Regions from separate parts of the Homo sapiens genome. Here region 1 is linked to region 2. A link means that fine-mapping ties the variant in region 2 to the expression of a gene that starts in the linked region. Tissue or cell type: blood mononuclear cells. Region 2 holds a variant in brackets; the other region holds the start of a gene. All regions are shown on one strand. Distances are between the middles of the regions.

Evidence for each region.
Region 1: TSPYL5 starts here. The variant in region 2 is fine-mapped to the expression of TSPYL5 in blood mononuclear cells (TOPMed, PIP above 0.99).

The regions. Positions count from the first base shown.
Region 1 is chr8:97,270,602-97,283,142 of GRCh38, forward strand. TSPYL5 (TSPY like 5) reads right to left here and starts at 7,327. Exons shown (of 1, transcript NM_033512.3): 1 at 2,887-7,327. The coding sequence starts at 7,243. The coding sequence ends at 5,990. The region is part of intron 2 of LOC101927066 (a long non-coding RNA gene); the gene reads right to left. RefSeq lists an enhancer at 6,364-6,865.
Region 2 is chr8:97,222,522-97,235,062 of GRCh38, forward strand. The region is part of intron 2 of LOC101927066 (a long non-coding RNA gene); the gene reads right to left. Among named protein-coding and RNA genes, the nearest start is that of TSPYL5, 49 kb to the right of the region's middle. RefSeq lists an enhancer at 9,504-10,111. The variant T/C (reference allele first, on the strand shown) is at 6,799.

The sequences.
Region 1 (12,541 bases), 48 kb after region 2:
TGAACAGTGAAATATAGTTGGAGAAGATTCCAAAAGCAGGAGTGAAGACACTAAGGGCAAATAAAGATAGAAATCATGGACTGGATAGCCTACGCTGTACTTTTTTATTGTTCTAACACCTGAGGGATATGACCCTACCCATCAGTTATAGTGGCTCCCCATGGCTGGGGACTTTTCTGAATCTTCAGAGGAGCAAGCGAATTTGCCAAATTTCCCTCCCTAGGTGGTTCTAACGTGCCTCCTTAGGGCAGTGTTTCTCTTTCCTCTGTTGCAAACCACTAAAGTAGACTAGAATGAAGAAGCCCAAAGTGCAAGAAGAAATAGACAGTCCAAAGCTGGTAGAGATCTTTGGTAAGCTCAGGGTGGCAGGACCATTTTATTTTTCTCTCCTCCCTCACCTATGGCCTAGCACAAACCTACCACATTTCCAAAAAGCCCAGGAGGTAACAGTGAAAAAATCAGAAGAGGGCTTTTTATAATAAAAGTCAAAGCTAAAAGGGGGGCCAAGGACTCTTGACTAGAATGACCCAAGAGGCCCTCCCTCTCCAGGTTATGGAAGGCCTGAGTCCCTTGTGAAGTCTGACCTAAAGGCCAAAGGTGAGGGAGGCTTCCTTTAGCCCCCTCTTCAACCCACATGGACACCTAAAGCATTCACCAGCCCCATGCAGGAAAATGGAAAAAAAGATTGACTGTCAACCCCAGGTGAAAGCTAAGAAGAGACTGAAGCCTATGGCAGGTGGGTGGCGGGGTGGAGTGCAGGTGGGGGAAGAAAAATTCAAAGTTGTATTTGTCCATAGCTGTATCTCCAATGTCTACACCAAGGACTGGTTCATATAAGAGGCAATGAGTGAATGAGCCCATGGAGAAGTAGTAAATCCCAGATTGAATGGGTTGTCCAAGGAACTGAAGAGAGGTATTTGAAAGAGGGCCTGGACAACAGAGGCTCTGCACCCACAGAGAAGCAAGTGCATAAATGAAATTGAACTGGGCAGAGAGCCCCTCCCAATTCATAATCCAAGCAGACTCTGAGTGAATCCTGAGAGGAAGATCAGGCCTGGAGATGCTGCTCTCCATCCCTTCTGCATTCCACATATCAGAAAAACTCCAAGGGTTTAAATTATGTTTAACATGCAAAATTAGGAGATTCTACATAAAGATACTGTTGATAAACTGAAGATTATTCCTACTCAAGTCAAGAGCTATATGTGAGCTGGTGCATTCTTGAACCAGACTGCCTGAATTTAAAGCCTGGCTCATTCATTACCAGCATGATCCTGAACAATTTACTCAACCTCTTTTTACCCCATTTCTTCAACCCATCCCCTCATTAAGAGATAATTATCACTTGTTATAAGGACTTAATATATTAATCCTTGTATAACGCCTGCAACAGTGCCTGGCACATGATATGCCTCAATACAATTAACTACCATAACATGTGAGGCACATATGTGTCAAAAGAATACAAGTTAAGATGTTGTGAGGGGTTAAATTGCTCCTGCCCTCACACCAAATTCATATGTGGAAGTCATAATCCCTAATACTTCATAATGTAGCTGAATTTAGAGACAGGGTCTTTAAAGGGTAATTAAAGTTAAATGAGGTCATTAGAGGGGCCCCAATTCAAGATGACTAGTATCCTTATAAGAGATTAGGATATATATACACACAGAGACACACACACACACACACACACACACACACACACACACACACACACAGAGACCATGTAAAGACAGAGAGAGAAGAAAGCTATCTATAAGCTGAGTGAGGCCCTCAGAAGAAACCAACCCTGCTGATACCTTGATCTTGAATTTCTAGCCTCCAGAACTGAGAAAATAAATTTGTTGTTTAAGCTACTCAGTCTGTGGTACTTTGTTATGGCAGCCCCAGAAAACTGATAAGATCTTCTTATGAAACAAATGTGGCCCACTTCACAAATTACCAAATTCAAATGCCCTCAGGCATCTGAATATAAACTGCTTTAAATTCATTCATTCATTCAACACTGTAGCACCTACTATGCCCTGAACACTGCATGTTTATTAAAACCCTTCGTCATATAAGCCAATTTTATTTTCTTGTCAGTAACCACCCACTTCTAATTTTGTCCATTTTCTGCTGGGCAGCTTAGTGTGCCACTTGGTTGTCTGCCACTGCTTCTCCTGATTAATGGGAAATGATCCTTGTTATGGATCTGAAATGAACAGCATCAGAGTATGTAGTTCTCAGCTCTGGCTAAACACTAGAATCACCTGGGAAGTTTTAAAAATACCTACACCCAGACCTATCCCTTACCCCATTCTGATTTAGTTGGTCTTCGTGTGGAGCTCTGGCAGTGTTTCTGTAAGCTTCCCAGACAATTCTAGTGTGCAACCAAAGTTGAGAACCACTACTTAAGTTTAAAAGGGACTTCAAGGTCACCCCCCCTTTCCACTCAAAGTACAGTTCACAGATCACCAGCACTGTCATCATCTGGAAACTCGTTAGAAATGCAGAATCTCAGGTTCCATCCCAAACTACTAAATCAGAATGCATATTTTAACACGATTCACCACACAATTCAGATGTACTCTAAAATTTAAGAAGCACTGTATTCCTACTAGAATCTAGATGATTCATAGAATCTAGATTATTCTAATGGGAGTTCACCGCTTCTGAATCAACTAGAAAGCATGTTAAAAACTAAGCTACCTGGCTTCCTCTCAGATTCATAGAATCTCAATCTTTGGGTAAAAGGCCTAGAAATCAAAATTTTATGTATTTTTGTGTAGCTAGTCAGGGTCTGCGGTTTGGGAATCACTTATCTAGGGCAATGTATATATTCTCTCAGCTGCCCAGCCTCTGTTTAAAAACCTTCCAATTCTTTTTTGAAAATCAGAAATATAACAGAGATACAGGTTTTTATTTTTCCATCATGCATGCAAACTTACAACTATTTATACTGTTTAAGAACACAGAAATAATTGCGTTATTAACAGGGTGTCAAATTACCAAGTAGAACAACCAGTTACTAATTATTTTGGGGAGGTTATTTTCACAGAACACAGCAACAATTTCCAAATTATTCTTCCAAAACCAGAGTTATGAGACCAGTACAAGCTGATAACAATGCTAATGGTCACACAAGTTTCCATGTTACACAGAAAAAAAGATTGACATTCTGGTGAAGGGTCTCAAGTACCTTACCATATCAGAATTTTTGAAAGAGTTTTACAACAGAACAGTCTCTCTCTTGTTTTGTAGATGCAAGGGAAAGGAAGCATCCCTCTCATTTCTTTTTGAGACTCCTTGTTAATTCTTAAAACACATTTCTAAGGCCCATCTCTGGAACTTCATTAGTTAACATTAAAAGCAAAAAGCAGACCTGATGTGATTATGATAGTGCACCCCATCACTATCACCATCAAAAGAGACTACCAATCTCCCAAAGTAGTCACGGTTGCATTGGCATAGTGTCTTGGATTTTCAATAAACAATACAGGTGAAAAGAGAGAGATACAGATGAAACCAGGTTGACCATAGCTGATAAGTGATGCAGCTAGGTGATGGACACATGGGGTCCAAGGACCATCCTCTCCACTTCTGTGCATGTCTGAAAATGTCCATAACACAGAGCAAAAAAAAAAAAATAATAACAAAAAACAAAAAAGCAGACTTGCACATCTGTATCTTCCCATTAGACTAAAATGGGGAAAGTCGTAAGACTTTAAAGGCAAAATGTGCAGCATATAGCATTCTTCTGCATGTACAAAGCCACACCTAGAACAAAAAAATAAAGCATCCAAAGTAACATTATTCCGTTTCTGGTTTGTCTCTGTGGCTTATAAAATCTACTAATGATAAGATTGGACAAAACTTTGGGAACATCCTCAACTAGGCATCCTATTTGTTCATAACCCCTTCAATTCTCATTTTCCAAGCTAGGGAGGTCCCTCCCATACTCTATCACTGAGAGACAGGCATGCTCCCCCTGCGGCTTCTCAAGCCATTTCTGTCTGATTTTGCAGGCCCACTCCATACCAGTATCATGCCTACTCGACGGTTTTGCTCCAAATCCCCCACCTAGCACACCCTTGCTACAGCTTTAAGCCAAGGACTCTCTTGAGGAACTTAGAATGAGGCCTCCCTAACAAAAGAGAAGGTAGGGAAGAACAGGTGTAGATACAGTCCTTCTTACCCACCCTCAGGGATAAGAGAGGGAAAGGCCCAGCTCTGCTTTTACACCCACTGGAAATAACCCGGAGATCCAAAACAGATTCTGCCCATCCCAATCCCCATCCCCCAGGAGAAGCTTGAGATGCTCCATATTGGAGACTAAAGCCCACTCCTGGGGCTATTTGAGGTAGAAGCAAAGAGAGCAAAGGACTGCTGAAAGTGGGAAAGCTGGGGATTGAGGTCCAGATGGCCAGAGGCTACCACAAAGGAGGAAACAGCAGGAGGCACTTGGGTCTTAGGAAGCATTAAAACAAAGTCAAAACAAGAGTAAACACTAGTCTATGACATGGCTGCCTTGGGGTTTATAACTCAAGCAGATGCTAGGCATGAAAAGGATTTTCAACTTCAGAACTGTAGAGCAAGCGCAGGAGACAGGTTCAGGGTTTGCCAGCAGATCCACTTGGCCTTCTGGTTTCCTCAACTCTCTTTCAACCTAGTATGTGTGCGCAGTGCCAAGTTCTCAGCTACCTCCCCAGCTGTATGTAGAAAAATGTGGTTTTTCAGTTGTTTTCTCTGTGGTACTATTTAAACAAAATAAAAAAGAATAAGGAAAGAAGGAAGGGGAAGGCAGAAGGGGAGGAAAGGAGGCTACCAGGAAAGGGAGGGAGGAAAGAAGAATGAGAGGGAGGAAATGAGGGATGAAGGCAGGCAAGCAAAATAAGAAGTATAAGTGACCTGAAGTCAAGCAAGCAGAGGCCCACAAATCAGAAATACCTCTTCCCAGAACCCCTACTATGGCACTCTGCTCACATCTTAGACGGGAATAAGGGAAGTTGACAATGGTATCTGGATTCTATATAGGCCCAGTCCTCACCCTCACCTGGAGCCACAGCATAATGACAGTGAACACATGTCCACACATACCAGCCCGCCCATCAGTCTGGCAGCCAGTAGGGTTCCTGGAAAGCTGGGGAGGGTAGGTGTGTGTCTCATGCACTGGTAGGGGGCCTCGGTCCACAGGCAGTTCTTGAGGTCCTTGTTGACCAGGAAGCCAACTGGGGCTGACAGCAACCCAGACAAAACTTAATGGCTTGATAGTGACACGGCATGGCGCAGATCTTGATGAAAGTTCACCAGTAGAAGGGCCCAGAAGCAAGAAGAGACACATGATGGTACAGAACACATGGCATACTGTTTCTTGCCCTTAACTTCATGCATGCCCAGCAGTCAAGTGCCATTCTGCAGAACATCAAGCAGGATGGGTATCACAGACCACAGGCCAAAGCCAGAAATAAAGCAGGTGACATCTCAGCTGGTGACCCCAGACCCACAGAACAGGAAGTTCTGGCTGATGACTAATACCATGTGCACTGGCTTCATTCTGCAGTGGCAATGGAAACGCTTGCATAGATGACATGCATGGCCAGCATGAACACGAAGCCCAGCAAGTCACTGGCCCTGAAGGAGCAGAGCTTGAGGATGCACTGGTCGTCCTGGAGGATGACTCATGAGTGTCCATGTTAAAGACAAGTAGGAAAGGCCAGAGCCAAGAACAAGGTCCAGGCAATGTAGATAACAGGGAGCACACATCTAAAGTATGTGTGCTTAACATATGAACAGTCCGGGTGCGATCACATAACATGTGACACTAACGTAGAAAAGCAAGAGGCTATGGGAGGCAAAAGAACATGATCATAAATGCCATATTCTTGTAACTAAAGTCCAAAGGGTCTATAGTACACAGAGGCCAACATGAAGAGAAGGCAGAGAGCCAAATATGTAGTCAACCAGGAGCAGCCCAGCAGGAGGTAGCAGGGAGACTTGTGCAGGATCAGTTGGATTGGCTCACCCCAGGCTGAGTAGTCTCCATTGGCTGCTTTCCTGGACCTTGCCTGCCTTCTTTTTCCTTTCCTTTCTCTACACGAGCCCCTTCACTCAAAAGGTAGAACTGCAAGGGATTGGGCCACAATTCTTCGTTGATTATCTCCACAATCTTGTCAGACTCAATGGAGCTGTGGTTTGAAAACCACCCAAAGAAACTACGGTTGTTTTCTGGGTTTCCCTGGCTTAGGGACTGGAGATCATGCCCTGGGAGCCACTGGATTGGAGTAGAACGAGACACCACCTGGCCAGAAGGACCACACCCATATTCCTTGATGAGCACCTTATTTTGGAAATACGGGTTGCGATCGAAGTAGAACTTGATTTTGTAGCCCAATCTGGCAAGGCCGAGCTCTTCCACTTCCAAGCTGTTTAAGTAGCTCAGTACCTCTTTCTCTTGGCTATTCAGAAAGGATGCTAGCTGGGGATGGTTCTGAAATGCTTGCCCCCAGAAGCCCGGGATATTTTGGATGAGGTGGTTCCTGCGCTCCAAGTGCTGCAGTCGCAACTGCCCAAACTTCCTGGAGAGCCGAAGGTAGGCCCTGTCCGCCTGGGCGTTCATGTTCTCCAGCTTCAGCTGCACGTTCTCCAGCGTATCCATGCTGCCTTCCGTCGCTGGGGGCCCCGACCCTGCATCCCTCTCTTCCTTCTTTTCCTCCCCAGCTGACACCGAGGTATTCTCCCCTGCCGCCCCTTTCTTCTGCCTCCCACCAGCTATGACCTGAGGCCCCCTCCCCGCGGTGCTACAGGTTTCTGGGGCCTTCTTCCCGGCAGGGCCACGCCGGTTTCCAACGCGGGGGGCATTTTTCGGCCTTCCCACGGTTCCCGCTGTTCCCACGAAGACAGTGTCTGCGGCCAGGCGCTCCGAGAGAGATGCGGCCTTCCCCGGGCCGGGCCTGGCCGCGGCCTGCCCGTGGTCCCCCGCAGCTCGGGCCCGCAGCGCGAGGCCACAGTCCAGGGGGAGCCGGCAGGCGGCCTCCTCCCCGAGCCGGAGGAGCTGCGCGGACGCAGCGGCTTCCAGGCCACCCCACCCCGCGCCAGCCTGCACCTGTGCCGCCTGGGTGTCTTCCCCGAGACTCTGGTACTGTGAAGGGTCCGGGTCGCGCGGGGCGTCGTCCGGAGCAGGGCGGACTCGGGCTTTGGCGCGGCCTTTGCCCCGGTTTTTGGCGCGGGAGGACTTTCGACCCCGACTTCGGCCGCTCATGGTGGCGGCGGAGGCAGCTTCAAAGACACGCTGTGACCCTGCGGCTCCTGACGCCAGCTCTCGGTCGGGACCGAGCGGGTCTCTCCACGGCAACCGCCGACGTCACGAACGTACAACTGTACCGTCGCGAGAGGACGTGATGCGCCCGGTGATTGGCGCCGCCGCTGCGGCTGCGCAGGAGACGACCCCCGCGGGCGCTCCCACCCCCATCTCGCGCGGACTCGCTTTAGGTCTCGGCGAGTTTCTCTGATATGCGCTCGCGGGGGTGCTGCCATTTCATCTCTTCCGCGCGGGCTCATCGTGCTCTCAGGGTCTCGTTGAACAAGGCAACGCTAAGAGCCATCACCACCTGTCCCCCATCACCTGTTTTCTAAACTAAACATCTTCAGCTCCTCCAGTTATCTCTTGTGGCATCTGTCATGAAGAAAGTGCTCGGGCGTGTGTGTCTCTCTTTGAACACCTTTGCTGAGGGATTTGCTCTGGTACCTTAACTCCAGAGAACGTAAAGGTGGATGCTATAATGCCGGGCGTCAAAGCGATTTGGTACGCAGTAAGATGATAGTAGAAATTATAAAAATAATGGCAACTAGTATTTTGTATCATTTGTGCCAGGCACTTTACTAGGTGCTTTAAATGCATTATCTCAATTTACAAAGGAGGTGTTGATATCATTCCCATTTTCGAGATAAGAAAACTGCATCTCAGAGACACCCGGGCACATTCCCCAGGTTACACAGTAAGGGATGGAAGCACAATTCAAACTCAAGCCCATGGGACTCCGTATCCTATGCCTTATATTTGGAAATGGCAAGTCCTTCCAGACTTGTTCCACTGTCAATTACTGGGCTGGCTCTTAAGAAATCAGCCTTGCTCCTTAACAAACAGGCTTCCGTGGACCACCTGACCACCTCTTCTGCCTGGGAACATCACCCGAGTCCCCCAGCTGCCTCAGTTTACAGATCTGGACTATCACTCTAGGTATAGGACCAGAAGTGAAGACCTGTATTAGAGCTCCTGTAATTGGAGTAAGACAAGAATGTGGTGAGAGGTGAAATTATTATTCAGGGAGCAGATTGAGGTTCAGAAGCAGAGCCTCCACGTGGCACTGCAGAAGCCCTAGAAACTTCTTACACTGTGCATGGAAACAGCCGGACAACCTCCCCCACAGTCCCGGAGGCAGCCCTGGACCACGCTCTTACTAGTGAGGTAATAGGACCATGAACAGTGAGGGGACCTGTGGCTAATGTAAAAATATAAAGAAAAACCTTTTGAGGTGGTCTTTTCAGGCTCAAAGGGAACAAAAAGGCCCTTGTAACCAGCTAGTGGAGAGATAAGCCCAAAAGCCCCGGGACCTCATTACTCAAAGTGTGGTTGTGGACCAGCAGCCTGATATCACCTGAAAGCTTGTTAAAGATGCAGAATCTCAGGCCTTTCCCCAGACCTACTAAGTCAGAATTTGAATTTTAACAAGATCCTGGGTGATTTGTATACACCCCTAAGTTTAAGGAAACAATTTAAAGAGGAATTATTTTTATACAGATGGCCCTATTTTAAGCCGGCCTAATACAAGTGATTCCTCATTTTCTCAAAAGCTCTAGAATAGCCTGCAAGGCCCTGTATGATCTGGCAAGTCTTCTATCTGCCACTACATGAGTTACCTCTCTGACCTCATCTTCTCTCTCCTCTCTCCCACCTCTAGCTACACTGGCTTCCTTGCTGTTCTTAAACTCACTAGGTAAACTCCTGCCTCAGAGCCTTTGCACTGGCTCTTCCTTCTACCTTAAATGCTCTTTCCCAATGTGGTTGGTGGCCTTGGCCAGCTGCCTTCACACTTTGCTTAAATGTCACCTTCTCAATGACCATCCTATTTAGAATTGCCACCCACCCCATCCCTTTATCCTATGGTACTTTTTCTTTATTCCAACACACTATACCAATTATTTATTATGCTTATTAACTATCTCTTCTCTCTAGAATGTCAGCTCCATGAGGGAAGAGATTTTTGTTTTGTTCACTGATGTATCCTCAGTGCCTGCAACAGTGTCTGACATATCAAGAGCACTTAATAAATACTTGTTGAAAGAAAGAACCAATCAAAGCAGAGTTTTCAAAAATGGGTTTGTAAATGATTGTCTGAAGTTCAGAATAGCTCCCCTTTTCCCACAGAAGCAATGCTATGGATGCTGTATTCTCAGATCAACTCATGGAAACCTACTAAACTCATAATTTAGCCAAAAAATTATCTTTTGTTACAGAGCACCATTCAGGGACAGTCTGTAAGTAAGAATTTAGAGTGACAAATTTAAAAATTAAGTTGGGAGATTTAATATTTGACTTAAAAGGGATTAATTAGTGCAAGGATTATCTTAAATTCTTGTTGAAGGCCCTTTCATAATAATTTCTTCCCAAGGCCTTCTGTGATCACCCCAGACCACAATAAGCAGCCTTGTCCTTGATCTCACAGAGTACTTGTTAACTATAGTATTCATTTGGCAGTGGGGCACACCCTGTTTTGTACCAGTTCTTTTACAAAATTACCTCTTAAGCTAGATAATCACAGCCTGAAACTCTCCGTAAACCTCAGAAAAAAAATTAAAAAATCATCTGACGCATTTGCCAACCCTCTATAGACTTTAGACATTGATGGGTTGGCCCACTTCTTAGAACACTCACAGATCAACCCATCTCTGTTGTCAAGAGTCTTAATCCAGCGTCAGCATCTGCGTCATGTAGCAGTCACCAATGGCTAAACCACTGTAGGATTAACACAGGGCTGGGCCATTGCAATGTGTTTATTATACAATCTGCCTTGAGCCTTTTTTCATCATGTCAAAGAGATAAGCATCAGATGAAGGGAAATAATTTAAAAAAATACCCCTCTGCTCTAAGCCACCCAGTTCCCCATGGCTTTTGTATTTAAGAGTTTGGTCTGTGCTGCTGAACTGGACTGTGTTTTCTTCTTGGGTCTTAATATTTAACTTTATGTGGAACTGTAGTTTGTGTTCCTAATTGGATAGTAAACTGTGTAAGTGTGGAGACTGTGTCTCTTTTTACTTTTATCTCTCAGAGTACCTAGCATGGGGCCTTGCACATACCAGTAATTATAATGAAAGTTTACATTTATTTCATACTTTTATATAGTGCTATGCCTTAACTCATTTAATCTCTGCAATCACCCCATGGGGCAGGTGCAATTATTGTTCTCGTCTTGGAGGAGGTTACTGCCACACAAAATGGTTCCATAACTTGCCCAAGGTCACACAGTTAATAAATGTTTTTTGCCCAAGCGATGCGACTCCAGCACCGTGCTCTTAATTAAAAATACATAATGTAAAATTATGGCTTAAGAGATTAAAACTCTCTCCAGTGGGTAAAAATACCTTTTAATGTTAAAAAAATTATATATATTAAAAATATATATACACACACATATGCAGATGCATACATATACACATAATACATACATCATTTAGTTATGAGTCATTTATTTATGGGGTATACAATATACCTGGCATAGCAATACTCAACATAAATTTAGTTTCAACAGCCCATGATGAGAACGAAGCATCTCTATTTGCACTGCATTTATCATAAGCATCCTGTTAATATTATGAAAGAAATGCAAGTTTACTGTCATGAACTCAGAGATCCTGGAGTGTTGTGAACTTCTTGCAATATCTGCAGGCTTAAGTTGATGGTAATATAAGCATTTAATTGATTATTTCTAATGTAATATTTATTAGCAAATATTTATTAGAAATTCATAAAATATTTTTCAAATGTTTATGTGTATTATGTCTATATGTATGTATATGCATATGTACTTGTGTGTATGTAATTCAAAATATTAGAATAAAAAATCTTCACTTTTGTTTTCTGCATATTGTGCTTTCTCCGTTCCTTTTGATATGTTTTCTTTGAATCACAGAAATTTACAAGCTGGGAAAAAGACATTTGTCATCCAGCCTATTCCTCAGCCAAGGGAACAATATTCCCCATCATTTCTCTCGTAGAGCTTTAGGATCCCAGACTTGACATTTTTAGCCACAGCACTTTTCTATTCTTCCCCAAGGAGAAAGTTTAAGTCTGTTAGATAGCAGTGAGTATTGCTTACTGTGTGGAATTTTGCCAACCAACCCTCCCAGGTTACCAAAGGGTATGGAAAAGAAGGCAGTGTCCTAAGAAATATTTTCATAGTCAAGGAGGGAGGGAGAGAAAAATCTGCCTCTTATGATAAATTTCAAGACTATTTGAGCTTAACATCTTGAGAAATTTGCCTAGCTTCTTGCCAGTTCCTCGCCAAAGAGGAAAATTTTATGGTAGACCACGTCACTTATTTCAGATCATATCCTATAAGTAGCTATAAAATATTTTAAAGTATTGCCTGACGTATTCTTTCTTCTTGGCATTTCCTTTTTATCCTGCAGCATCTTAACCATTAAAAAAGATCTTAGGCTAAGGCTTTTGTTCTAGAAAAGGGAAAAAAAAAGCAAAGAACCCAGCAAGCAGAATTTCAGCCAGTCAAATTCTTCACTTTGAATTTCAAAATTGGCTCTTAAGAGGGTAAGACACAATATCATGGAAAGAGAAAGATATATATATTTGATATATATTTGAAGAGCTAAATGTGCGCACGCACACACTGCCTCTACTCTCACTGTGTGTGAGAGAGAGAGAGAGACGTGTGTGTGTGTGTGTGTGTGTGTGTGTGTGTGTGTGTGTGTATTTAGCTCTCCAAAGATAAGTCCTGGAGCACTAATAGCATAGAGTTTATAACATTAACCGTAGAAGAGGAAAAACATGATGATATACAAGCCATTTCTCTGCTACACAAAGAGGAGCTAAGAACCTTTTCTGGTCTGGAGTCGAGGAACTTGGAAAAGATTCAGAGAGTGAATAGTTGGTGTAGGGTCTTGAGAAATGCTTCTCACGGTGACCACACAGTGACCACCACATGGGTCAATACCCTTGGAGCATTGGTAAAGACAACCTTCTCTGGACAAGACAGAGGTATGGGAATAGGGAGAATTAGTTCCTAACTTGACAATTGAAACTCACACAAGAAAGGGCTTTTCTCAGAGGGCTCCATACCATCAAAGGGCAGCCAAGACAGTATAAAAGTATGTATAGGGTAACAAAGAAAGTTCTGAAATGGCTTCTCTCACCCTGTATGCCCCCCACTCCCAATCTCTGGCAGCCCTAGAATGAAGTGGAAGGGCAGCCATATGTTCCTCAGGCTTGCTAAGAGAGGTCCAGAGGTTGGCTAAGAGCAGATGGAGTTCAACTGGGTCTTGCAAG
Region 2 (12,541 bases):
TCTTTCTTTTTTATACCCAGCACAATACCTGATCCATGGTGAGCTCTCAAGAATACTGAATGATGTTGTTAATTGAGTCATTTCTTTACAAGCTGTCTAACATGCCTCAGCCCTATGGAGAGAGATTGGAGGGGCCCCAGGGTCAGTTCACATGGGAAGTTCCCACCCCATGAAAAAGAATATGTGCAAAGAGATCAGGCAGAGTTACCAGCAGTTAACAAGTATTCCACAAAAAAAGAATATTGCATGTGCAAATAAGTTTGGGGAAGGCTATGTCATAAAGAGTTAAACCTCTGTCTTTACTATAGGACCTGGAGGGATCTTGAATATGCTAATATGCAGCTCTCCAAGATGAGTATCAATAGGAATCACTCTTCTCCACACAACACCTGACTTGCACCCCGCGTCCCTTCTTTTCTGCTGAAGAATATTTGGATTTCTAGTGAATTTCTGTTTTGTTTTTAAGAGGAACATGAGCCAAAGGCGGAACATGAGCCAAAGGAATCCTCTTGTGAGCTGTAAGTCTGCCCGCTCGGTTTGAAGATGCTGACATGGCCCTAAATGTCACCACATGGATATTAAAATCTTTGGCTTCTCCCCACTCCACAGTGCCTCTGGGCTCTTTTGCCAGAGTGCTTTACGGGGGAAAATAGGCAGAGGAAATAGATGACCGCAGTGTTGCGTGGCAGTCACCTAGGAGACCAGCTGTGCCTCTCAATTCTGAGTGCAGCCCCAAATAAATGAGGCTCTGATGTGTGCGAGCTGAGCAGATCGCTCCTTGAGCATGGGGGACTGTTGCGAATGGAAACACTTTGAGCCTCCACTATGTTAGAGAGGAAGAAAGTGGAGCCCAGAGAAGTGACATAGCTTCCACAGCATCACGGAGCCAATGCTTGTCTCGTCAAATGTAACTCTCAACCTGGTTAAAACTGTAACTCAACCACCAACCATTATAAGGTGCTGTATTTTTAAAACTTGCTTCAGAAATAAATATATGCAGTCTGGGGTCCTAGCGTGGGCGTAGTAGGAAGGCCAGAAGACAAAGGCAGCCATCATCAGCCATTAGGATAGCAAGGGATTCCTAGGTAGAGGTGATGCAGGTGTGATTTGTCTCCTCCAGTTCTCAGCTGCACTTATTCCCACCTTTTGCTCACTCCCAGGCAACCACAGGGGATCTGGGAAGGAATCCTCCTCAGGTTCCCCAGGAGATTCTGCCCCAGTTTCCTGAGCATTCACGGCTAACAATTCCAAGGAGAAAGAGGCACCCGGCCTTCTCTCTAAGGGCATCCCTCTTCCCTGTGTTAAACCTGCAGCAGCAAGCCCAGCTGAGCACCTCCCACACCCCCTGACCCTCCAGGGGACTCTGCATCAGGGACAGAAGGGGAAGGGAGAAAGTGTGGTGGCTTTGTTGTCCCCTTCACACCCCACTCAGCATCCATTCACCTTCTCTAAGAGCACCCTGATCCCTGATTTCCTCCTGGTTTGAGTTGTAGTGGGATGGTAAGCCCAGGCACCTGCCCTCCAAATAAAGCAATCAAAATCTCCTTCCCCCAGAGCCTCCCTCAGTATCCCAGTGTTACAGGGGACAGGCATGGGACCACACTCAGTAGCAGGGGCTTTCTCATCTCTGCATCTTGAGTCCGTGTCCCTAGGAATGGTGATATGTCCAGAGTCCTACTCCCCTGTGGTGGCACCCTGGGCATGCAGTCCTGCTAGAATTCTACTCCTGGGGCTTTGCTTCCTCATCCTCTAGGGCTTTCTCACCTTTTGCTTGTCTCCTAGCCTAGTTTTCCAACATTCCCTCTGATTCTACAGGCACCTGATCTACCTCCCCATAACCCCATTCCCCTGGCCAACCAGAGTCACTTTATGTTGCTTGCAATCAAAGACCCCTAAGGATACAAATTTGTGCACCAATAATCCTCAGCAGATGTAGTAAATACTTAAACTCTCACCAAGTCCCAGAAAGAGGAAAATGTTTGGGGAGAAGTGGGAATGGCAGGGGAAGAAATCCAGGAAGTCTTTGAAAAGGAGGAGATGTCTAGGGATTGGAAAGATCCCCTACAGGGTCAGGAATGGCCTAAACACTTAAGCAAGTGCAGACAGGGACGCTTGTGCACAGGTGGAGCAGCTGCAGGGAGGGGAGAAAGCAGAGTGTGTCCCAGGCGCCCCCTCTGCCGCTGCTTCTGCAGGACAGCCACAGCTGGGTCCCCCCACTGCACCTTCTCCCCAGAACTGAGATGCAAATGCAGCCACAAAAAAGCTGGCACCCACCCCTTCCTTCCACCTCTGGGCAGGGGCCAAGGGGAAAGGGGCTGGGGTTTCTCAGTGGTGACAACAAAGCCAAGCCAAGGAGGCATATGTGGCAACCTTGCATCCTCATAAGGGTCTTTCCTGAATGCCCAAGCCCAGAGCTTCCTCTGAGCGTACCTGGGGGCCATTGCAGCATTGGGTTCTAGTAACTTCTCCCCCTCTCTGCCGCTCCCTCCCCGAGCTTACTGGAAAAGTTCCCTCTTCATGTTTACAATTCTCCATTTCCCACTGGGCCATAATGGCCCATGCTCCATAAGCATGGAGACTATGCTTATAATGCTCTGCATTAGTCATTTCCACAGAGATTCAAGCAAAACAGCAAATCCAAGTGAATTAATTCTGACAAAACTCTGGCAAAGAAAAAAAAAAGGAAAAAGGGCCAATTGCTTATTATAGTCCTCAAAGTCAAAACGAGGGGTTACGGCAACTTATCTTGTGTTCCCCAGTGTCAAGGACAAAGGTGAGATAAGACTGATCCTCCCTTATGCCTGCCTCTTTCTTCACAAGGAGATTGGAAATAAGGAAGGTCTGGGAACAATTTGTTCAAGGTTTGAGCTGTTGGCTCCTAAACAAGGAGTGTTCTTGGGGAAAAACATTATAATGCAATTGTGACGAAAATCTCTTTTCAGTAGATTTGCAGAACATTAAATCCACAGACGGTCTCAGATGCAGTCCCTAGTTGATGAGAACAGAGCGGCTTTTGAATCTGAGTTTTCTCCCTGCCGTACCTGAGAACCCTCTCTTTCCATTTGGGGTGCTATGTTTGAGGTTTGGCAATGAAGTGGCATTTCCTTAAAAGGAAAAGAAAATACATATTTTGGTGGCTACGGCTCAGGTAGCACACGTTTCCAGAGGAAATGAAAGTCTTTGAAAGGAACGTTTGCCTCCTTCAGTATAAATAATGTTGATCTGTCAATGTCTTAACCTCTGTTTGGTGTTTAATGAGCAAAAATATATCTTTTCAGACATGGAGCACACTGGATCCTTTTTAGTGGGCCACACTGGGGTGAATAAAGATGAAAAGAAAAGCGTTATTGTGACTCCAGTGGAATACAGTGTTCTTTACGCAATTATTCTGAAGTTTGGATCCAGGCTGTTCCTAGGGAAATACCAGCTCCTTCACCGGTATTTTTCTTTTTCTTTTTTTCTTTTTCTGCCTGCAAATCGTAACCCCTAGAAATTTTAAATTACTTCTTCGTGCTTAACAAATTAACTAATTAGATGATTTCATTTGGACATTGCATAATATGGTAGAGTTGGGGATTGGTCAAGTTCCTTGATTTGATTTGAGAACCAGTTCCAGGAGTTACTGGCTGATGGACCTCCTGAAAGCCATTTTTCCCTTCAAAGCCTCAGTTACCACAGGCATGAAGGGGGGTGATAATACCCACCTCACCCCCTTCAGCTGTTATGAAGATCAAATGAAATAATGAATTGAAAGTGCTATAATGCAGATCAAATAAAATAACAAATTGAAAGTGCTTTGGGAAGTACAAAGCATGTCACGATTAGAAGAGAGGGAAGGAAAAGGGAGTCATGGTTTATTGGGCACCCAATGCGTACCAAGTCTTCTGCAAACTGACTCTCGCAATAGCCTCCTAAGCCCTCTCTACATCTCCAATCTTACCATGCTCGCCCCAATCCAACCCGAATGGCATCCAAAATGACAGAAATCAGATCATGTCATTTCCAGCTCTAAAATCCTCCTGTCTCCCATTGCAATTATAATAGTATCCAAGCTCCTTGCCATGGCTTTATGAGGCTCTACCTGACTGCCTCCTCTCTCCCCAGTGCCTACTTCTCTACTTGGTCATACTGGTTCTTCCCATTACTGGACCATGTTCAGCTTCTTTCTGTTTTGGGGCCTTTGCACATGTCTTAACCTCGCCAATCCTCTTCCTCCTTTGCAATTTGCATGTCATTTGCTTCCTCTCAGCTAGAACTGCCATATTGACCAGACCTGTTAAGTAATATACATCTCCAGGGGGTGCCATTCACATAGACTACAGTCTGCACGACAGCACATGGTGGCCCTGTTCTCAGCCTCCAGCACCACTCCTGTTATACCCTTGACTTGCACTACACTTCTCCTTCACAGCAATTTACACATTCAGAATCATTTATTTGTTAAATGTCTATTTTCTCCACTAGTCCATCAGGGTAGGGACCATGACTTCCCTGTTCACCTAGAATCCTCAGCACCTACAACAGAAGGTACTCAGTAAATGTGTATGGACTGACTTTCCATGAAGTACAGATGAGTACATATCATGCTGTCTCAACACAAGGTCACTAAATAGGCATGAGCATTGAGGCTTGGCAAGTATCTCAGCAGCTTCCCATCATCCATCTCCATCCCCAGTGCCAGCATTGACCTGGAAGCTAAGAAGTCCTCCTATACCACAGACCAGGTGTAGAGGACCTCAGAGGAAGAAGGGCAAAGGGCCACTGGGAACTGAGTCCTGCCTTCTGCTGCTAAGAGACACATCACTGCCCACTAGAAGTATTTAGTGTCTCTCTCCAGAAATGAACTATTCCAAGGAAAAGTATATGAGAACAGACTCTCAAGTTCTGAAGAGCTGAATTTTAATCTTGCCCTATAATGGGTGAGCTGATGATTATTGGCAAGTAATTATAAAATGTTCTATCCTTTATCCTTGCTAGGATTTTTTTAATTAAACAAGTCACTTTATAAGTAGAACCCTGAGCTCTAAGGCAGAATGACTCTAATAATGTGATGCAGCAGTGTTGTTATACAGTCGATTAATAAACCTCTCAAAGTATGTGGTTGCCATTGCTTCCCTCTCACCTGGGTCTTAGCTGTAGCTAGCTTCAGTAATAACTTGTTGATTAATCAATCACAAAGGATTTAGAAACAGAAGGTGATGTCTGCTCTGTGTTTTGCATAATATTAAAATAAATAACCCTAGCAAACTCAGTGCTCTTTTTTGGTGAGACCTCATTCATTGATTCTTAGAGCAAACATTTATCAAATGTCTTCTCTGCACCAGGGATTGTGTTATGTGTTGGGAAAGATGCGTTTCCTGCCTTTAAGAACCTCACCAGCTAGTGCAGGGGGTGGGGGGAAAGAGCGAACCAACGTGCAAGCAAACAATTGCAAGCAGAAGGTCAAGTCTGTTCTGATGGAGGTATGCACAGCATCCCACGGCAGCACAGCGGGGAAGCCAATCAACTCTGCCTGAGTGAGAAGACAATTCTCAGGGATACCATCTTAGACAAAGCTACTCTGCATCTCATGTAGACACTCAAGGGAGAAGAAGGTGGGAAGGCTTTCTGGAATGTATTAGTCCGTTTTCAGGCTGCTAATAAAGACATACCTGAGACTGGATAGTTTATAAAGAAAAAGAGGTTTAATGAATTCACAGTTCCTTGTGGCTAGGGAGGCCTCACAATCATGGCAGAAGGCAAAAGGCATGTCTTACATGGCAGCAGTCAAGACAGAATGAGAGCCAACTGAAAGGGGAAACCCCTTATAAAACCACCCTATCTCCTGAGACTTATTCACTACCATGAGAACAGTATGGGGGAAACCACCCCCATGATTCAATTATCTCCCACCAGGTCTTTCCCAGAACATGTGGGAATTATGGGAGCTAAAATTCAAAATGAGATTTGGGTAGGGGCACAGCCAAACCATATCATGGAGCTACTCCTGGGCAGTGAGAACCAATCAGATTCCTTCCAACTTCTAGTTATCCATTTAAATCTGATTCCCATCATCTGAGTGCACACAGACCCACAGGAAGGAGAACAAACAAGGAACTGTTTGCAGAATACCAGCCCAGGCCCTCTCCAGGTAGACAGGAGGTTTATGGGCAGCAACATCACTCCAAATTCCTCTTGAATGAGTGAGGTTTGGCAGGGGGCACTCTGCCTAGTGCATTTTTCTTCTTCTTCTTCTTCTTTTTTTTTTTTTTTTTTTTGTAAATTTGTGTATTTCTGACGAAATTTAATTCTTAGGAGTCTCACTTGCTTACATTCCAAAATGCCATTTTTTATTCAAGGTATAAGAAGCCTCTATACACCCTTTCTTTCCAAAAATGTTAGATTTTTAAATTCCCAAAGTCCAGAATGTAGGCTCCAGATTTAAGCCTGGAAAATCAGTGAAAGTTTGAGTTACAAGTGCTCTCATCTCTGACTCTCTGGGACTTCCACAGGGCTGGTGGTGACATGGTATAAGGCCGTGCAGTGGACAGCAAGCTTGAGCTGGCTGTGACCATCGCATCTAGATTGGAGTTGGGGGCTGGCTTTTGTTGACCAACTAAAGTTCCATGGAGCTTTAGAAGGGCTGGATAGATCAGAAAATATTTTGATAAATTTCCTGGAGGAAAGATGAGAGCCAAGGAAACAAAGGAAATAGCTAAAGTGGTCCACACTAGAAACATAAGTGACCAACAAACATATTTAAAAATGCTCATCATCACTAATCAGAGAAATGCAAATCAAAACCACAATGAGATACCA[T/C]CTCATACCAGTTAGAATGGCTATCACTAAGAAGTCAAAAAACAACAGATGCTGGCAAAGCTATGGAGAAGAAGGAACACTTACACACTGTTGGTGGAAATGTAAACTAGTTCAGTCGCTATGGAAAGCAGTTTAGAGATTTCTCAAAAAACTTAGAGCTACCATTTGATTCAGCAATCACATTTCTGGGTATACACCCCTCCAGAATAGATAATTCTGCCAAAAGACACATGCACTCCTATGTCTATCACCTAGCTATTCACAATAGCAAAGACATGGAATCAACCTAGGTGCCCATCAGTGGTGGATTGGATAAAGAAAATGTAGTACATATATACCATGAAATACTATGCAGCCACAAAAAAGGATGAAATCATGTCCTTTCAGCAACATGGATGGAGCTGGAGGCCATAATCCTAACTAATTAATGCAGGAGCAGAAAACAAAATACTGCATGTTCTCACTTATAAGTGGGAGCTAAACATTGAGCACACATGGACACAAACGTGGGAACAATAGACACTGCAGACTACTACAGATGGGAGGGAGGGAGGGGGTATGGGTTGAAAAACTACTTATTGAGTACTATGCTCCCTACCTGGGTGCATTATACCTATATAACAAACCTGCACATGTACCCCCTGTATCTAAAATAAAAGTCAACATTAAAAAAAGAGAAAGAAAGAAATGGGCAGAAACCAGGGGGCGGGGGAGTGAATGAAAAAGACAGGAGGGAAGATGGGAACAGAAGAGTTGAGGACCAAGCAACATGAAGGGGTCCAAGGAACCTTTCGAAGCAGAATTGGATGACACTGTGTTTGAGTCAGTTTCTGATGCTATGGTACAATTCCTTTCATCTTTCCAAGCCTTCAGTAATGTCACCTACACACAAAAAATGCCTGTGGGAGAGGTTTGTTTCAGGAAAGTTAGCAACTGAGTTACTTGGCAAATGTAGTGCAAGGTCAAACATAGACTGAAATAAACAGACCTACCGAATCCCTCAGCCTCCTCCTCTGTCCTTGTGGCATTTATCTCTTTGCTGCTTGGGCACCATATTTGGGTGAGACAATACGTAAATTGATTAATTTAGTGGAAGAAGGAGCTCAAAACCCAAGGTGACCGACCACAAGCATGTAATTTACCCCAAAATTCCTGTGACTCTGGAGGAAGTAGTTGGAAGTTCCATAACCTGTAGTTCAAGGGTGCAATAGTTTGAATGTTTTTATCCCCTCCAAAACTCATGTTGAAACTTAATCCCCAATGGAACAGCATTGGGAGGTGGGGCCTTTTGGGAGACGTTTAGGCCATGAAAGCTCTGTCTTTGTGAATGGATTAATCCCACCATAAAAAGGGTTTGCACAATATATCCACATCACGTAATGGGACTAGCTTACCACCCCCCCCACCATACCAAACAAAGACTGCCAGCACTACAACCAACACCTGCATTCGTCAAGCACCAACTGTGTTGTGTACCCAGCACCATTCCAGGCAATATGCAGATATCCACTACTTTGAGGTAGTTATTCTTACATGAGCACAGGGGTGCTTAGAGAGCAGACATAACCATATATAGAGGTCACTCAACAATTCTCATAAACTTAACTTTTGTTTGGTCTGTTCTTTTGATAGCAAAAACTGTTTATTAGTTCTGCCATCTGTAGCCTGAAGTATGGAAAAAACATAGGTTTTGGAGCCTACCTCTGACACTTTCTGTGTTAATTTGGGCAAATTCCTCAACCTCTCTGAGCCTCAGTTTCCATCACAGATCTAACACTTTCTTCCTTGCAAGATTAATGTGATATATGTAAGGAACCTAACACAGCTGTTGCCATGTAATCAGCACTCAATAAATCATAGCTACCATTTTAAAAAGACAGTGGCTGGGGAGTCTTGAGGGAGTTGAGAAAGTGTGTTGGCTCTCTTCCACTCTTCTACCAGGTGAGGAACAGCGTTTATCCCTCCTGAAGGATGCAGAATTCAAGGTACCATGTTGGAAATGGAGACCAGGTCCTTAGCAGATACCAACCCTACTGGTTCCTTGATTTTGGACTTCTCAGCTTCCAGAACTGTGAGAACTGAATTTCTTTTCTTTACAAATTACCTATTCTCAGGAATTCTGTTATAGCAGCAGAAAATGGACTCAGAGAGTTTGAACAATCTCCTTTTACCCCTTAAGGGGCAAAGAGACCCCAGCTAAATCTAGGTCTAGAATTTTATTTTCTCATTTGATCATGTAATAAATAGAAATAATTGTCCTATCTTCCAAAGGAAAAGGCCCAGAGGGTCTTTTATTTCCCTAAGTCCCATACCTAATAAGTAACAATCCAGAATTTGAATTCAAGTCTTCAGCTGCAATTTTTAAAAATGTTTTGTTTAGAAATTTTTATAGACTTACAGGAAGTTGCAAAAACAGTGCAGAGAGGTCCAGTGAACGCTTTATCCAGCTTCCCCAATTTTGGGGAATTCTTCTGCAATTTAATATTCTTCCCTTCACCCACTGAATTTAGGGATGAAGAGCTGAGCTGCAAAGATGAGTTTTGTGCTACAGCAGCCTTTTTAGGTTTACAGATCATCAGGCCCTGGGTCTCTAGCTGAGAATCAGAAAGTAAACAGACAAAGAGTTCAGCCTAAAGAAGTTCAAGTCCCAGAGCAGTGGATCTCAACCCTAGCTGCACATAATCATTATCTGGAGAGCTGTTTAAAATACAGGTTCCAATATAATCAATTAGTTCTGGGAATTAGGCTTCCATGTTTTCTGAAGCTCCTTAGGAGTTTCTAACAGGCAGATAGGGTTGAGCTGTGCCATTGGTACTAATAGGCTCTAAAGTGAGCCCACCCTCTCATCAGAGCATGGTGTCAAGCGACTCTCCTTCCTAAGATCCCATCGCTGACACCAAGATACCTATAAGAGGATCCTGTGAGTGGAGAGGCTCCTGGGGTAACCTGGCAGGGAAATTTGTCTATTGTGTTTACTGAAAGGCATTGTAGTACTGCCACTCAGAGCTGTGCTTCCCTTTCTGAAACAGTCAAGCAGTTCCGGGCACATCAAAGGAGATTATCATTCCTCTGGCACCGGCTTTGTTTTTCGCTGCCTCTAAAAGAAACAGGTCCACTTATCTCCAGAATGCTTTCCCAGAAAGCTCAGTCCCTGCTGGGTGAGGTCACCGGTCCACAATTTGCGTCCATCACACCTTGTAGGAAGTGAGGAGAAACTGACTTGCTTTGTTTTCCAGCACCGGGGAAACAGATTTCTTCTTAAGCTTCACACAATAAATTGTATTAAATCCTTTCAGCAGGGTTTCCATGGCTATGTGAAAGGAAAATCATACAGTAATTGTTTTAAATAATACAGCAAGGCAAGCTGGAGAGTACATCTTAATTTTTGTCATCTGTGCTGTGTTCCTGTTTGTACGGAAATGTTCCCGAGGCAGAGGAAAGGTTTCTGCATTCACTGGGAGTTGCTTGGTGAATGTAATGCAAGGTCAAATACAAACCAAAATAAACAGACTTACTGAATCCCTCAGCTTCCTCCTGTCCATGTGAGCCCCAGGGCTTGTCTGCTTACTTTAAGTGGGAATTAGGATGGCATTTATCTCTTTGCTGCTTGGGCACTAAAACTGAGCCTTCGACTGCATAAGCCTGATTCCTGCTTCTCCCTCAGTCCTCCATAAGGAGACAGAGTTAGACGTCTGCCCTAGACAAAGGCGATGCCTGAGAGGAACCTTGAGTATAAATTTGTCCCCCAGCTGCCTGGTACCTGGGGAATTCTGCAGGGTTAGGTCTTTCCACCAGTGTTAGCGCAGTCATTTACAACAAAACATCACGCATAACAGTCAAGGTCCTGTAATCCCAGCACTTTGGGAGGCTGAGGCGGGTGGATCACCTGAGGTCGGGAGTTCAAGACCAGCCTGACCAACCTGGAGAAACCCCATCTCTAGTAAAAATACAAAATTAGCCAGGTGTGGTGGCGCATGCCTGTAATCCCAGCTACTCGGGAGGCTGAAGCAGGAGAATCGCTTGAACCCGGGAGGTGGAGGTTGCAGTGAGCCAAGATCATGCCATTGCACTCCAGCCTGGGCCACAAGAGTAAAACTCCGTCTCAAAAAAAGCAAAAATAAAAAAGAGTCAGGGTCTTCATAATGGACTGTCCAAGATTCTGAGCCCCAACAACCAGGCTGTTGCAAACTGCCTACCCTCTCTGAGATTTCATTTCTTCATCAGTAAAACGAGGACGGTGAAACCTATACACCCAGAGATTCTGGCTCTCAAATCAGGTAAAGGATATAAAGTGCCTATCCTAGTATCTGACAAAGCATCAGGGCTCAATAAATAGTAATAGTGTTTTGTTACCATTATCATTATTAGTATTTGGTTGTAGAAGAGACTGCCTCTCTCATAATAAGGTGAACCAGAGGGTTGTTGCCTGCCTGGGTGGTATCCAGATTAAATTCAACAACTGCCACTGAGCCCCTTCCAGATGTCACAGAGCTGGCTAGTGTTGGGAAATTGGCAAAAGTCTGCTTCCTCCCCTGAAGGAGCTCTCAGTCTAGAACTAGGACCCTCACCAACTGATGCTGATGAACATTACACTCAGATTGTACTTGACCATGGCTGGCCCATGTTGTGCGATTACTCCAGGGAGAAAGCAGTTCCTAACTTAGTCCTAAACAATCAGTTGGATAAGGAAATAGAGAGCTCTATACTGTCACTGACAGAAAATGTCATGTTGGGTCCCAATCCTCTGTAGGCAATTCAGCTTCTAAAGCAGGATACAAGTAAATTCCCTCAGCCAAGCCCCAAAGAGAGTCAGGGCAGACTGCACCCCAGGGCCTAGTCCTTTGACCACAATGATGCTGATGAGAACCTCATGTGGCCGGGAATGGGGAGGTGGAGGAAAGAGAAGATAGGAGTCGAGGAGGCAGAGCCTCACCAAGCAAGTATGAGATCACTTGGCAGACAAACCAACATTGGAAGGAAAAGGACATTGGCCCTAGTCACAGTCTGCCATTTTGAACTCTGGAAGTTTATTTTAGCTTTTTTTTTTTTTTTTTTAACGTTTTACAGCATGGACAATAAAAAGTAAGAGAACACATTAAGAAGATTCGCCCACACAGAAGTCATCTGTGGAGCCAAAACCAAGACATAGTTGAGATGTTTTGCTTTAATCTGTGCCTGTGAGAGACACTTGCTCTGCAGGCCCCATGGGAGTTGTGGAACAGACTCACCAGATTCCAGGGCTGCCTGAGAGTGTGCCAGTCTATGGCCCCTAGATGCCAGTGTGGCCCTGTCCTTCGGTGCCTCTGGTCGGTGGCTTTTGCCTACAGTTCACTAGGTCAATCCCAAGCCTATCCCTTTTTCCAGATGCAGCTCATGACTCACTCGCTTCCCTGTTTAGAACTTTTTCCCAAGGTGGAGTAGGTTGATGCCAGAGTTGGAGCCCCTCCTCTGCACTCCCATGTCGCCCTCTACTATGGTACTTACCCCCTAGCCATACTTCCTGTTTACCTGTCTGTCTCCCCTGCTGGTTCATGAGCCCCTCATGATCACAGGGGAGGAACCGTCTCTTAAGTGTCGTGCGTCCCCAGAGCATAGCACAGGGCCTGGTGCATAGAGGCATGCAATAAATGGTTGTTGAATGAGTGAATGCCTATATAAATAAATGAATGGGTGACAAAGCTCACTGAGCACATCAGTATGGTGATGTGCTGAACATCAAGACATTCCTTTAAACCTCTCAGCT